Linked DNA regions of Homo sapiens: region 2 is linked to region 1. A link means that fine-mapping ties the variant in region 1 to the expression of a gene that starts in the linked region. Tissue or cell type: whole blood. Region 1 holds a variant in brackets; the other region holds the start of a gene. All regions are shown on one strand. Distances are between the middles of the regions.

What was found. PIP is the estimated chance that this variant, and not a neighbour inherited with it, causes the effect.
Region 2: it holds the start of ANKRD34B, and the variant in region 1 is fine-mapped to the expression of ANKRD34B in whole blood (INTERVAL, PIP above 0.99).

The regions. Positions count from the first base shown.
Region 1 is chr5:80,406,945-80,415,050 of GRCh38, reverse strand. It overlaps ZFYVE16 (zinc finger FYVE-type containing 16), which reads right to left and starts at 6,987. Exons shown (of 19, transcript NM_001284236.3): 1 at 6,898-6,987. RefSeq lists a silencer at 6,387-6,506 and an enhancer at 6,227-7,025. The variant T/AAT (reference allele first, on the strand shown) is at 3,917.
Region 2 is chr5:80,565,968-80,574,073 of GRCh38, reverse strand. It overlaps ANKRD34B (ankyrin repeat domain 34B), which reads left to right and starts at 3,794. Exons shown (of 5, transcript NM_001004441.3): 1 at 3,794-3,920; 2 at 4,967-5,114; 3 at 7,300-7,385.

The DNA of each region.
Region 1 (8,106 bases):
CAGAAAGAAGGAAGGGAGGGAAAGAAGAAACTGTCAAATAAACCACGGATATGGTCTCCAAATGGAAAGGGCCCATTTGGGGCCCAACACATGAATGAAAAACTCTTACCAACCAACATCATTGTGAAATTTCAGAACACCTGAATGGTTGAAGGGAGGATCACCCCATTTAATACTACAGTCTGCATCCCCTACCTCTCCTTTCCCCAACATTCCTGAACTTCCCACCCCAGCCTGCTCTTTTTTCTCTTTTCTAAAGCAGTTATTTACTTTACAAACTCCCAATGTTTTGTATAATTTATTTATTATATTTGCTGTTGAACAACTCCTCCCTCCCTGAATTTAAGCTCTATAAGGACATGAATCTTGTATTTTTGTTCACCTATATATTCAAAATGTCTTGACCAGTGCCCGGCACATAAAATGTGCTCAATACATACTTGCTGAATAAATATAAACGCTTCCAAAGAGATATAACAGGTCACAATCAAAGGATTGGTTATCATAAATGTGAGGGTTAAATAAAAAAATGGTTGACCATGCAAGAACCCAAAATATGTGCATCCCATTCTGTCTCTCTCAGGAAGCTACTCAAAAACATACTCTGCCAATATAAGGGAGACACCAAGAAAAAGGAAAACCTGAAATCCAAGAAAAAGAGGCTACCCACACAGAAGAGACAAATGCAATTCACAGATGACTGTAAAAGGGCAGTCCAGGAAGAGAGTTGTGCAACAGGCCTAGAGAGCAACCCATCAAGATGGAGGCAGGAAAGATGTCGCAAAACAGATTATCAGATGTGTTTGAATCTACTAAGAGGAGACTGATGTATCTGGTTCAAGAGATTAATAGATCAAATAAAGAATACAAAAGACACATTAAAAAGATATAAAACATTTATTTATAAAGAAATATAAAAGGTACATGTACAAAAGAATTAAGATATTAACTAGGAAAAACAAAAATTATACAAGAAAGGAAATAACCTCACACTTACCTTGTTCAGCTACATACAATATTTACATAGTTAAAATGAGGTAAACACCAAATAACTAAAAGTTAACATGTAACTAATTTGGGAATATAGAGGGGAGAGGGGAAGTGAAATGCAGTGTTTAAAGGTAGGAGTTGGTACAAAAAACCTAAACTCCCATCTTCTGTAATAGGAAATGAGTAAACTATACTTCAAATCGCATTAGGATGGGAATGGGGAGGGGATATCGCCATATATCTAAATATGTCATTTTAAAAAACTGGAAGTGATAAGGAATTGAAGTCACTGACTCTGGAGCAGCCTTTCTCAATTAAGGTTCGGCGAGAGAATTAATCTTTAATGCCCTAAGGCTTCCATTTTATGTAATAAACTAACTTCTCTCCTATGCATCCATCATATTATTAGCTACCTACCCTCTTTGGGAGAATTAAGAAAATAGTTGCTCAAATCATTTTTCTTGTTCAGTGATTCAGACAGAAAGCACTGATTGAGAAAGACTGCTTCTGGAGAGTGGGATTCAGGGGTGAGAAGGACTGGGGCAGAAGATTGTTGTTTTTCTCTTTTTTTTTTCTTTTTTTTTTTTTTGAGATGAAGTTTTGATCTTGTTGCCCAAGCTGGAGTGCAATATCGCGATCTCAGCTCACTGCAACCTCCGCCTCCCAGGTTCAAGCGATTCTCCTGCCTCAGCCTCCCAAGTAGCTGGGATTACAGGCATGCGCCACCATGCCTGGCTAATTTTGTATTTTTAGTAGAGATGGGGTTTCTCCATATTGGTCAGGCTGGTCTCGAACTCCCGACCTCAGGTGATCCTCCTGCCTCAGCCTCCCAAAGTGCTGGGATTACAGGCATGAGCCACCGCACCCAGCCCTCTCTTCTTTTTTGAGACAGGGTCTCACTCTGTTGCGCAAGTTGGACTGCAGTGGCACGATATTAGCTCACTATAGCCTCCACGTGCTGGGCTCAAGCGATCCTCCCACCTCAGCCTTCCAAGTAAATGGAACAACAGGTGTGTGCCCCACAACCCAGCTAATTTTGTTTATTTTTTGTGGAGACAAGGTCTCACTATGTTGCCCAGAATGGTCTCAAACTCCTGGGCTGATGTGATCCTCTTGCCTCAGCCTCCCAAAGTGCTGGGATTACAGGCGTGAGCCACCACACCCAGACAGTTTTTCATTATAATCCTTGAAGTACTATTTGACTGTTTATGTACAGGTATCCCTTCGATAAATATAAACATTAAATTTAAAATAAACATAATAGTAAAAAGTAGTAGTAACGGAACTCTGAATACAGGATGTATTTAACAAATTAAGCACAGAAACTGAAAGGTCTAGAAATAGTTTCTTATTAGCAAAAGCCAGAGAATTTTTTAGAAATAAATTATGGAATTCATTAAATAACATATATTTACAAAACATTCCTATCTATATAGCAATGCTCTACTAAGCATTATGTAATTTCAGGTGCCAAGAAAGATATAAAAAAAGATAATATAATTTGTAAAAGGTATGATATGACAATGTAAATACGGTATACTGAAATGTTTTAACATGAAATCTCATTAAGCTGTGTATATTTCCCATTTCAATCAATCAGTATGTACTTTTTGTGCCAATAATCTACCATATTCAGTATAAGACATAAAAGAAATATAAGATATACTCCCTTTTAAAATAGGTTTATTTATGTATACATATAACTTATTTTAGGTAGTATTTTTACTCACTTGGCTATTTATATATTTTTAAATTTAAGAAAAAATCTTCGTAATATTTACAATAAAATGGTTTTTAAAAATCTCTTCATGATTACAAAAATTGGCAGTAACATGGAAGATTAACCAGAAAACCAACAAAACCAACAGTAAGGAGACACCTAAAATGGTTAAGGTAAGAGATGAAGGCCTGAGCTGAGATAATGCAGTGGAGAAAAAAAGGAAATACATATAAAGGTGGCTAAAATGAGCCAGGCATGGTGATGCCCGCCTGTGGTCTCAGCTACTCCAGAGCCTGAGGTGGGAGGATTAGCTTGAGCCCAGGAATTTGAGACCAGCCTGGACAACAGAGTGAGATCCTGTCTCAAATAAAAATAATAAAATGAAATAAAAGTGGCAAAATAATGAGAAGTTTTGGAGACCGAAAGCAAGGGAGAAAGCTGGATTAGTGCCAGGTTTCCACCATGAGTGGCTAGGGTAGATGGTGGTGCCACTGACCATGACAGGCAATACAAAGAGGAGCAGGATTAAGGGAAAACATGAGTTCACGTTTGGACTGTTTGAAGTACCTTGAGAACATCCTGGGAGAGATATCCAAAAGGCAGCTGAATATAAGAATCTGGAATGCAGGAGAGAAGTCTGAGATAGATAAAGATTTGGGAACTGGCAACACACAGCTGTTAATGGATGAGATCACCTAGGAAGAGAATATATTTAGAAGAGGACAAGAGCCTGCCATCAGATAACTAAAGATCACAACTCATGTTCCTAAAACCACTCAGGATAAAACTTTGCCCAGTTATATGTACTTCAGTAGAAAAATATCCAATATATAATGTTAAATGAAAGAAAATCAAATCACAAAACTTTATGCATAGTGCAAACCTATTTTTACAAATAAGTTGTAAAAAAAATTAACAAATGCATAGTAAAAAAATATGAAGGAACAAACATTAATGATGTTAGTAATACTATAAATCTAGGAATGGGATTATGTAAGCCTTTCAGAGCTACATGATATGTCTTCATACTATTTTACTTTTTTTTTATAAGCATATACTTGGCCAGCGTGGTGGCTCATGCCTGTAATCCCAGCACTTTGGGAGGCTGAGGTGGGCAGATCACAAGGTCAAGAGATCGAGATCATCCTGGCCAACATGGTGAAACCCTGTCTCTACTAAAAATACAAAAAAAAAAAAAAAAAAAAA[T/AAT]TAGCTGGGCGTGGTGGCACGTGCCTGTAGCCCCAGCTACTTGGGAGGCTAAAGCAGGAGAATCGCTTGAACCCCAGGAGGCGGAGGTTGCAGTGAGCCGAGATGGTGCCACTGCACTCCAGCCTGGCGACACAGCGAGACTCCATCTCAAAAAACTAAATCAATAAAAATAAAATAAATTTAAAAAAAAAAGGCATGTGCTCTTGTAAACCGAGAAAACATAATTTTGTTGTTTTCCTTTAAAAAAAAGTACAGCACGTTTCCTAAGGTCGGGTGAGGTGGCTCGTACCTGCAATCCCAGCACTTTGGGAGGCCGAGGCAGGCGGATCACAAGGTCAGGAGATCGAGACCATCCTGGCCAACATGGTGAAACCCTGTCTCTACTAAACTACAAAAATTAGCTGGGCATGGGGGCGCGTGCCTGTAGTCCCAGCTACTCAGGAGGCTGAGGCAGGAGAATCCCTTGAACCCGGGAGGCAGAGGTTACAGTGAGCCGAGATCACGCCACTGCACTCCAGCCTGGCGAAAGAGCGAGACTCTGTCTTAAAAAACAAACAAACAAAGTACAGCACGTTTCCTTACAATATATTTAAGAAGATAAAAATGTGTTAGAAAAACACTTGGATACTGGACTATAAACGAGCAAATAACATCAACAGACAACTAGTAAGATTATGAAAATTATTCAGTGCACTATCAAAGTAATGAGAATTAGAACATATACCATTTATTGCCTGCTAAATTGAAACAATTTTTTAAAATAATAAAAGTACTCGATGTTGGTAAGGGTGTGATTTTTTTTTTTAAAGCATGTCAGACACTGCTGACAGGAAACAAACTGGTACTATCTCCCATGAAAACAATGTGACAATATGTACCAATAGCCTGAGAAAGATTCCTAATATTTGATCTAACAATTATCTTTTTAGAAATTTTAGAAAAGAATCCATGTGTTAAAGCTCTCTTAAAATGTATCTGGCAGTTGTCTGGTTTTTACTGGACTCCCCCCAGCCCCCTCAAAAAGAAAATAATTCAAAACAACTAAAAACATGCAAAGATATTTCACCAAATCATTAGTTGAAACAATCTAAACACCAACATTAGTGCACAAAAGCAAATTATACAGGCATCAAAAGTAATGTGTTTAACAAACTTAAAAAAAAGCAAAACTCTATGACCTAGCAATTCTACTTACAGAAAAAACACTAGCACGCATACACCAGAAAACATCACAAAGAACTTTCACTGTTGCAAGGGTTGTAACAGTGTAAAATTTTAAACAACCTAACAGCCCACCAATCCAAAAATGGTTAAATCAGCTTTCTCAAACTGTGGTCTCAGGACCCCTGGATGTCCCCAGGAGCCTTTCAGCAGGCTTGTAAGATCCTCGCTTTTCCTGCTACGTATCTGTTCAAGGCTGGTGTTTTCTTCATATGCTTCAACCTAAACCAGATAGCACAACAGACTGAACAGAAGCAAACATGAAAATCCAGCTGTCTTCTATAATGCCAGACATTAAAGTGATTCGCAAAAATTTGAAACAATGCCACGCTCCTCTTCTAAGTTTTGTTTTAGAAAATGGTTACTTTTCACTAAAAAATTATTTAATACATGAGTCTGTGATTTTTAAATGAATAAAACATTTTCAATTTTCTGAGTTTTAATTTCCAAAATGGTAAATATACTGCAGCATTAGGAACCAAAAACTCTATTGGTCCTCAATAATTTTTAAGCGTAATTATCCCCAATCATAATGTTAAATGAACTGTAGCACTATTCTATCATGTAACATTATGATTGAGGATAATTAATGCGGATTTGGCTTTATCTGTAATATAACTGTTTCAAAAGATACTTTGCTCATGTATAATCAAGAAGTCATTTTTATGAAGCTTTTTAAAAACATGGGGAAATGCTTACAACGTAATTTAAATCAAGGAAAGCAGACAATCCAACGATATAAAATCTCATCTCAAGAAAATGCACAGGGGAAAAAAAGACTCAAAGGAAAAAAGTCAAAATATTATAAGTAATTGATTACTATTACATGGTGGAATTATGATTGATCATTTTTCCTTATTCTTTATTCTATTTTTTCAATTTTTGCCACTAAGCATGCGGTTTAATATCCAGGAGAGGAAAAAAAGGAAGAAATTAGGCGAAAAATTATATATAGTTCTACTGGATTAAACCATTAAACTCCCGCCAACTCAAGAGACGACAAGCTCAAGTGAATAAATGGAGGAATCTGATTGAATCAACAAAGTGCCTATTTTTTGAATTGAAAAGATTAACTTAATATCAAATGTATGGACTGGTTTTCATACAAGTCAAACTAATAAGAAAGAACATCCTTAGTCTGGAACATAATATTTGCAATCACGATAGTACAAATAAGAGTTAAAAATAAGGTCCTCTTTTGGAGTTCTCAAAAGTACCAAAGGAAAGGCAGCGGGAAAGACGGCCACTGCATCCTTCTGGTCTCTAACCAAGAGAAAATGCATGGGTGCGGGAATGGACAGTGCGAGAGCACCGGCGGCGATGAGACTCCTCTGCGGGGACCGAGCCTCTGCCACTCCTGAAGAACCACAGTCCCCTCCGCAGTCGCAGCCCCTCCCCAGGCGGGACGGCGGCGCCAGGGCGCTTCTCCCTCCGTCCGCTGGGGTCTCTCCCCCAGGAGCGCCGAACACTCCGGCGGCCCGGGAGCGGGGAACCGGGCAAACAGCCGCCGTGATTGCCCTCCCGGTCCAGTCCGGTCTGGCCCTTCAGGCTCCAGGAGGGGACATCAGATTGGAGGGCCAGGGTTCCCCGGCCAGCTCCGGGGGCTCGGAAAAGGAATCGGTCGGGGCCCAGGCTCTGTCCCCAGAGGAAGAGGGCCAGACCCAGCGCCCAGGTCGGCGGGTCCAGCGGTCACCCCGCCCCCCTGTGGGAACAGCAGGGCTGAGGGGAGGCCGAGACGACCGGTCACGGGGGGCTCTTACCTCCCTACAGCCCCTGCGGAGCTTTTTGGGAACTCGACACGACGTCGCGCTGAGGAGTGAAGAGCTACCCCGGCCGGGAGTCCTGGGAGTGCCAGATCCCGGCTCAGGGCTTCTTTCCCCGCCCCACCGGGCAGCGCAGAGAGCGCAGGCGCAGAGGACGCTTTCCTCTTCGGCTCACACGCCCCCTCCCTCGGCATCCGCGGCCGTCTCCAGGCCCGGGGCGCTTGCGCACTACGACGCAGGTTCCGAGCCAAGGGCACTAGATTTCTTACCGGAAGTGCCTGAGTGGGTTGTTGGGTGACGGGGACGCCTGATGATTCGACCTTAGGTCGGGACTCGGTTCTCCACTCGACTGCGGGATCGGGAGGCCACTCGCGTCAGTGTCTGACTTCCTTTACCCTTCGCTAACCTAGAGGCAGCTTCCCCGGCTCCAGCCTTAGCCCTTTGCTGAGCCTGCGCGGCGTTCCGGTCTCTACTGGACAGACCCGCCTTCCCGGCAGCGGGCTAGGCCTGCTCTCCGCGCTGCTGGCCCCTCGGAAAACATAACTTTTTGTTTACTTCAAACTGATTTTACAACACGCTGCCCCCCCGCCTCCCCCGCTTCCCCCGCTTCCCCTTCCTCCTCCCGGCAGCAATAAAAATGCTCCCAGCCAACGCCGAGCTCCAAGCCCCTCCAGCTGACTGGACATTCCCAGCCACACTTTCCTTCCCTTCGCTGCGTTAGTTCTGCATTTTTATTTTAAAGCAGCTGGTAGAACAGCTGTCTCCCTGTCTAAAAGCAAAAGCTGACTTATCTGATGTAGAAATAAAATGTCACTCACTTGATGTATATTTGCTTGTTGAGTTTTGCTATTTTTACCACAAGTTTCCTATAAATTTAAATGAGACCCGGCGCGGTGGCTCACGCCTGTCATCCCAGCACTTTGGGAGGCCGAGGCGGGAGGATCGCTTGAAGTCAAGAGTTCCAGACAGGCCTGGGCAACATAGCAAGACCCTGTCTCTACTAAAAATGAAAATGAAAAAATTAGCCAGGCGTGTTGGCGCGTGCCTGTAGTCCCAGCTACTGGCTGGGAGTCTGAAGTGGGAGGATCACTTAAGCCCAGGAGGTCAAGGCTGCAGTGAGCTCTGATGGCAACACTGCATTCCAGCCTGAGCAACAGAACCAGACCGTGTCTCTAAAAAAATAAAAAATAAAAACAAGGGAAGAGA
Region 2 (8,106 bases), 160 kb before region 1:
GGCCAGGCTGGTCTCGAACTCCCGACTTCAGATGATCCACCCACTTTGGCCTCCCAAAGTGCTGGGATTACAGGCATGAGCCACCACGCCTGGCCCAAGCATCTACTTCTACTTGTTTCTAAAATATATTTTTTGATGGCATAAAACCATGAGGACAGGGAGTCTCACATTCCAGAGAATCCCAGTCTATCACTCACAAAGTAGGATGTATCCAATTTGGTTTGAATGGCTTGGGTCGGTTCTGGGTCCTCAGCTTCCATGACCTCAGGTCGTAGTGAATCTACACTCCAGGGAGGTGGAGCCACACAAAGGACAGCGGGAAGAGCTGGGAGCTTCCTTCTGTTCCTGTTTCCTCTCCTGAGGCTTCTTAGGTGAATCATGGAGCTTTGCTCCCTGGCAGTCCCTTTGCTAAAATGAGGATAAAAACATCTGTCCTCTCTCCTTCAGGGGTGTAGTTGCTGGACTAAACTGAGATCAGAAGTAGGTATAATCTAGAAATTCTCATTCTCAGACTTTGAATGTTAAAATCATCTCCCTTTAACATTCAGATTACAACGATGGCATGGACTGGCCTGCCCAGGTTACCAGATGAGCTTTGTAGTCTAATCCAGACCTCCCCTTAACTCTCCTGCTGTGGAAGTCAGTCCTCATAATTCCACCATTGTGGCATGTGATGCGACACTGTCCACTGACCACAGGGCCTTTCCCACTGTAAAATGTGATGTGTTCACCACTGTTTAACTGCTGTTACCAACTCCCACGAAGGAGGATCTGCCTTCTCTAACATGTCACTCAGCATGGGTGCCCCCAGGCACAAATCACGTAGTGCCAGCAGGTTGGTGGTGGCTAGAAGTGGTGTTCCAGCATCAGCCCTCCTCTCCTGCCCACCAGTCCTGGCACAGCACCCAGGTCAACAGTAAAAATCCTACAGGTAAATTGTATCTGGGATACAATGTAAATTGTAAATTCATTATCCTCTGTTTATTCAGTCCATCCTCCATTCATGCAACATGTTCCAATATCCTGCTGATAGGTGTGGTGGGTTGAGTAATGAACCGCCATAGAGTTTAATGTCCTAATCTCTAGAATCTATGAATATGTTACCCTACAGGCCAAATTAATTTTGCAGCTGTGATTAAATGAAGGATTTTGAAATGGAAGATCATCCAAGTGGGTCCAGTGTCATCACAAAGGTCCTCCAGAGTGAGGCAGGAGAGTCAGAGGGAGAGAAGGAAGCAGAGGGAGAGAGAGACATGTAACAACAGAAGCGTGGCAGTGGGGAGAGGAGGGCAGGGAGGGAGAGAGAGGGAGAGACAGATATTGAAGATGGAGGAAGGGGCCACCAGCCAAAGAATGCAGATGGCCTCTAAAAGCTAGAAAGGGCAAGGAAACAGATTGTCCCCTGGAACCCCCAAAAGTAATGCAATCTTGCTGAGACTCTGGTTTTAACCACATAAAATTCAACTTGGACTTCTGACCTCCCGAACTGTAAGAGGATAAATCTGTGTTCTTTAAGCCACAATAAGTTCGTGGTGATTTTGTTTGTGGTAACAAGCAGCAATAGAAAACTAATAAAGTAGAAGTGAAAATTGGATCATCTGCTTTGAAAAGCTGTTTGGTGGCATCTCCAGAAGCTGAACATATGCCTACATCATGACTCACAATTCCACTCCTAGGTATGTACCCAACAGAAATAAGTATATATGGTCACCAAAAGACATCTATTTTAATGTTCATAGCAGCATTATTTGTAATGTCCCAAACCTGAGAATTACCCAAATGTCTATCAGTAGTAAAATGAATAAGCAATTGAGGCACAATCACAAAACGGAATACTATACAGCAAAAAGAATAAACAGACTACAGCCACACACAGTATGCATCTCTTAATCATACTATTAGTGAAAGAGGCCAGTCAACAGAGTGATTCAATCACTATAAAGTACAAAAAGAAACAAAACTACTCTATGCTGTTTGAAGCCACCACTCCCTCCAATGAGAAATCTGAAGAGGGAGTGTTGTGAGGGTACTGGTAATGTTCTGCTTCTTGATCTGGATGATGCTCATTTTGTGCAAAATCATCGGACTTGTGAAATGTGTGTCTTTTTTTTTGAGATGAAGTCTGGCCCTGTGGCCCAGGCTGGAGTGCAGTGGCACTATCTCGGCTCACTGCAGTTGCTGCCTCCTGGGTTCAAGTGATTCTCCTGCCCAAGCCTCCCCAGTAGCTGGGATTACAGGCATAAACCACAACACCTGGCTAATTTTTGTATTTTTGTAGAGATGGGGTTTCATCACGTTGGCCAGGCTGGTCTTGAACTCCTGACCTGGAAGTGATTCACCCTCCTTGGCCTCCCAAAGTGCTGGGATTACAGGCATGAGCCACAGCACTCAGCCAAAATATTTGCCTTTTAATAGGTACACTGCACATTGATGAAATTTTTTTAAGAGAACAGTCGGAGGTGGTAAGGGGGAGGAGCCCCGTGCCTTCATGCAAATTGGCTCAGTCTTCCTGGTAACCTCCAAACAAACAGCTGTAGGCAAAGGGCAGCCCAGATATAGGATTCAAACTCCCTAGAGCCTAACTTTGGGGTAAAGCACCCTGTGCAATTGCTTTGCATATGTTTACTAAATGAGGACCCTTTAGGTCCTCATTTCGGAGAGATCTTTTCTTTAATAAAGGAAGCCTGACCAGAGATAAATCTACTTTTCCCGAGAACTCAAAACTATAAACAAGTTTTGATTGACATTATCTGAATAACAAAAATAGTGATGGCCTTTCTCCACCAGACCCTCCAAGATAAATGAAGAGTTAAAAACTTTGCTTCTGGCCGGGCGTTGTGGCTCACACCTGTAATCCCGGCACTTTGGGAGGCCGAGGTGGGTGGATCACTTGAGGTCAGGAGTTCGAGACCAGCCTGGGCAACATGGTGAAACCCCATCTCTACTAAAAATACAAAAATTGGCCAGGCGTGATGGTGCACACCTGTCATCCCTGCTACTCCAGAGGCTGGCTCATGAGAATCGGTTGAACCCAGGAGGCAGAGGTTGCAGTGAGCCGAGATCACACCACTGCACTCCAGCCTGGGTGACAGAATGAGACTCCGTCTCAAAAAAACCAAAAACTAAAAACGACAGAAAAAGTTGCTTCTGCTTCATTTCCTTTTCATCTCTCAGTAGAGTTTAACATATGAAATGTATTTTTCGAAATTTTGTTAATATGTTTATTCATGTTTTAATAATAGCATAATAACCTTATAAATTCCTAAAGACGTAAATAAGAACGGTTGTTCCCACTAACACCCCAACCTGAAGTGTGGCTCTGGCTTTACCTGAAGTGGGTACAGGGATGCGGAGGGGTGGAAGGACCGGTGGGGACAGATGGACCCATGAACCAGCGGGTGGATGTGAGCTGAGGGGAGGGATACGGACTGGAGGAGCCAAAGCCCGTGACGTAGGGGTGCGTGCTTCCCTCAATGGGGAGACCCTGCTGCCGCTGTTGTTGGCCAAGTCGCCGTGGCCGAAGCGCGGTGGCCGAAGCGGGGGACGGGGGTGGGACTTACGGGGACAGAAGGCGGAGCTTCCAGCAGCTGCTGGCCCCCCTGGGTCCAGAGGAGCCTTGCCGCCCTCACCTGCGCAGAGCCTGGAGCCGACGCGTCACCCCCAGCGGAAGCGCCTCGCTGCCCGGGCGTCTGGCGAGGTGTGCGCTCCGGGTCCCAGCTCCAGCGCTTCGCGGCAGTCGCCCGCCTCTTTCCGCAAGCAGGGCGGGGACTGGGCGGCATCTACCGAGATCTGCGATTCGAGGCGCCGAGGAGCCGAAGACCACAGCTCAGCTCAGACGGCGCCCTAGGGCCGCACAGAGGGTCGGGCAGTGCCGGAGAGAGGTTTGAAAGCGCCGCCGCCAACTCGACAGCGCGTCCCAGGTCAGTGTGAGGCGCCGTCCCTGCCGGCTGCACTTGGGAAACTTTGGCTTGCAGTGGCGGCTGCCGGGAGGAGGACATCGAGGGCGCAGCGTGGAACCCAGCGGCCCGCACGGCCTCAGTGCTCCCTGCCCGGTGCGCGCAAGCCCCTGAAGCCCGCACCTCCCGCTCACCCTGACATTGCAGTGCCCCGAGCAGGATGAGAGACCCAGGGCCAGCCGAGGGCCGCCGGGCTGCAGGGGCCTCCCGAGAGACTCTGCCCCGCCACCCCGGGGCGCGCTCCACGCGAGCTCACCCTCGCGCCTCCTGCCTTTCCCACTGGTTCTCGGTTCCAGTTTTGCGGCCGCTGGGGCTTGGACTCCGCGGGGATGCGGGTTCCGCCTCCTTCTCAGCCTCGCCGAGCGGCGGGAACCGGCGAGGGCTGCCCGGCCGCGGGGTGTCGAGGAGGATGCGGGGCGGGGGGCCTGATGGGCGAAGGTCGGCGCAGCAGCGGGAGCGGCGCGCGCTGGGCCGCAAGAGCGCGCGGGTCGGAGGGGCTGACTTGGGCGCGTCTCCGGAGGGGCTGACTTGGGCGCGTCTCCGCAGGTGCCTCGGCAGCTGGGCAGCAGGAGGTGCCGGCTGGGCGCTGGGGGCGGGCTGGGGACTGCGGAGCCCTTTGCAGCTTCCAGGAGCTCCTGCTTCCAGGAGCCACACAGGGGCGGGCAGCCGGTTCCCGCCCTTCTCAGGTGCGCACAGCCTTGGCACCAGGATACCGGACCCCCTTAGCAGAGAGCCGGGTGCAGAGGTGCGCCTGCTCCGGGATGGGGGCAGTGGCTGCGCCCCTCAGACGCACCATTTCCCAAGGGAGGGCCGCGTCCGGCCGGCGGGCGAGCGGCGCAGGGACCGCTCCGCAGCGGCTGTGGGCAGAACCCGTTTTCATGGATGGTGATCGCCTTAGCCCGCCAGCTGCCTGCCCTGGCTCAGAGATGAGGCGACGAAACGCGCACCCCGCCCCCATCGGTGCCCTGGAGCTGTCGCCCCAGTCACCTTCCTTTGCCCTTCTCCGACAGCGCCTTGAGCTCGCTTCCTCCTGCTCTCAGGAAAAACTGAGGAAACGCGCCTGGTTCCAGGGGTCGGCGGGGACCGTGGAGACGCTGCCAGCATCCTCAACAGCTTGGAAATCCCATCACCTTGGTTCCCTGAGACTTGGAGGACTAGGTTGGCCTCTCTCTCTCTCTCTCTCTCTCTCTCTGTGTGTGTGTGTGTGTGTGTGTGTGTGTGTGTGTGTTTTGGGGGGAGGTGAATCAGTAACAGAGGTTGGGGCATAGATGCCCCAAAGGCCTGGGGGACAGCCGAAGTAACTAGGAGAACACGGCAGCCCTTTGCGGGTATGTGTGGGAAACACAGCAAACCTTACCAGCTACGCGTCTCCTTGGACAGTTTCTAAATATTTCTTGCAAGTCAATACCAGGGAAGAATCTTTTTCTGGCCAGTCATTCCATTTTCCAGGACGACCTCAGATGCATCTTTTATTCTGTCTCTGCCCCTTTCCTTGGGTGGGAGGAGGTACACATTTGCTTGTGGCAAGCAGGCTTGCCTTATTCCAGTGTAGCTGGCCTCCCTCCTGGCCTTCGGCTGCCCACTAGGGCTCTGGGTTTTTTCAAACCCGTCTAGGAAAGGCAGGGCAGCAAACCTCCAGCTCCTGGCCCATTCTACTAATTCAAGGCTGTCCTCTTCTCTGGGACCTGTGAGCTCCCTGGACCCGTCTCTAGGCTGTGGCAGCCATCTATCTCTGCCTTTCACTCCTGCAGGGGAGCCGAGCATCGCACCACTTGGAAGTAATGTCGGAGACAGCTCTGTGTGAATCTGAGGCAGGGGTCCATAGCAAACAGGAAGTGGCCTGGAATGAGGAATGAAGAGTTTGCCTCAGATTTTCTCCAAGTGTGCATTAGAAGCACCTCCCATGGAATATGTGGGAGTGGAGCCTAGAATTTTCTTTTTAACAGGCACTCCATGTGTTTCTTATGCCCACAAAAGAAGAACCCATTGGTATAGGGAACTTAGCATCCCATCGTCAGACCCCATCAGTCCTGAGGATTCCTGTATGCAGTGCCTGTATTTGGTGATGCATGTTTGTAAATGGACATTTATTGAATTCGTAAGTAGCAAGTATGTTCGGATCTTTTAAAATCCTCACAATCATCTACTGTAAAGTAGATATTATCCCCATTTCAGGGGTGAGGAAACTAAGGCTCAGAAGAATGACCTCCCAGAGGTTGATAACTTGGAGAGATCCGGAGCCCAGGTCCCTGATACGCACCCTGCTGCCTCATCTGAGCAGTCTTTAATCCCCTTTGGGGCAGCACATAGGCAGGGACTGGGGCAAGGGCGACGGGCTGAATTTTGAGTTCAAACCCATTTGTTAAGTTCTTCCCCACCATGGCCAGATGATGAACTTTATGAGAGGAAGCGTGGATCCTATTTGGAGGTAGAGTGAAAGGCTCAAAAGAAAATAACTTTTCCTTCTTTTCTTTTCTTTTCTTTTTTTTTTTTTTTGAGACGGAGTCTTGCTTTTGTCACCCGGGCTGGAGTGCAGTGGTGCAATCTCGGCTCACTGCAACCTCCGCCTCCCGAGTTCAAGTGATTCTCCTGCCTCAGCCTCCTGAGTAGCTGGGATTACAGGCACCCGCCACAATGCCCGGCTAATTTTTGTATTTGTAGTAGAGATGGAGTTTCACCATGCTGTCCAGGCTGGTCTCAAACTCTTGACCTCAGTTGATCCGCTCCCCCTCGGCCTCCCAAAGTGCTGGGATTACAGGCATGAGCCACCATGCCCGGCCACTTTTCTGCCTTAATGAAAGGAAAACTGGGGGTGGCATGGGGACAAAAAGCCACAGGAAAGGCCTGGCCTATCGTCTCCAAGATGGCTTTGCAAGCACCTCAGCTCATGCAGCACTGCCATGTGAGATAACACACAAATCAGGCCCTCAAAACAGTCCTACTCCGTGCGAAGCTCATCCAAGAAGCAAGGTGATATTGAGATAAAGGACACAAACATGTAATTGACCTCTGGCAAACAGGTGAGTAAGATGATTGGCTTTGGGAGAGTGCCCTCACCTTTCCTTTCTCAGCCTCCTGATCTGCACCAAGTGAGTGCCGAGGCCCTTCCAACCCCAGCAGTCCTCGCATGGCAGACTCAGCCCTGCAGGCAGACACACACGGGGTTGCTGTGCATAGAATCTCCAGACACTTTACAAACTCATAATCAGTGAGATATGACTAACTGAGCAAACATTGGGGGATTTCTTAATAAGGAATTTAAAAACTAGACTCCAAATGGGAAAGATGCATGTAACAAATTATTGGTGTTTATGTAACTCTGAATAGCTTTGATTTCCTTCAGTAGGAACTGACAGCTGGCTGACAGAAAACTTATCCAGGGAGAGAAGAGACAAAAGTGAAGTGTGAAATTTTGAATAATGTTTTCAGGTAAGTTTCTATTTCCATTTAGAGTGGGTGTCTGGAAGGGTGAATGCAGTTATGGTTTGAATTTCTTTCATGTATCGACAGATATTTTTAATAGGGCTCATCTTTCCAAGATGCAATGTGTCTTACTTCCTTTTCCTGGCTTCCAGTCCCCTCGTAGCAGGGCAAGGAGCTGGGGACTTCAACGTTTGGCCTGCACATGCTCACTGAATCCCTGTTTTCAGCAAGCTGCCTCTAAGTTTGGAGCCTTTCTGATCAATTTAGAAAATAAATCTTCATTTTCTTGCCTAGGAAAGTGGTTGTCTGATTCCTGGGGTGGGATAGAATATGTAGGGGTCCAGTCGTTCTGTTCACAGACTTTCAATCATCTTCTTGTTCTAAGCCCTGATACTCATTGCCATTTTCTATGGCACTTGGGACCTCTAAGTCCTAAATGTCACAGGTCCTGTGGGTAAGCAGCCTCCCTGGGTCTATGTCCTGCAGCCTCCTCTGCTATGCTAAGGCCATTTGCCACTCCACCATCCCCCCATTTCCAGAGCTTGTTTGAAATTGCTCATCTAATGGTATCTCTCCTCCAATTTTCTTTGTTCTTAAAAATACACATATTTAAAATATTTTTTAAAAATAACTCAGTGCTTATTATTTTGGTGGCATCTTGGGCATAGAGGGAGGAACTAAAGGAGCATCGTAAATATGCCATGATGAGGTGCAAGTGATATTAAAG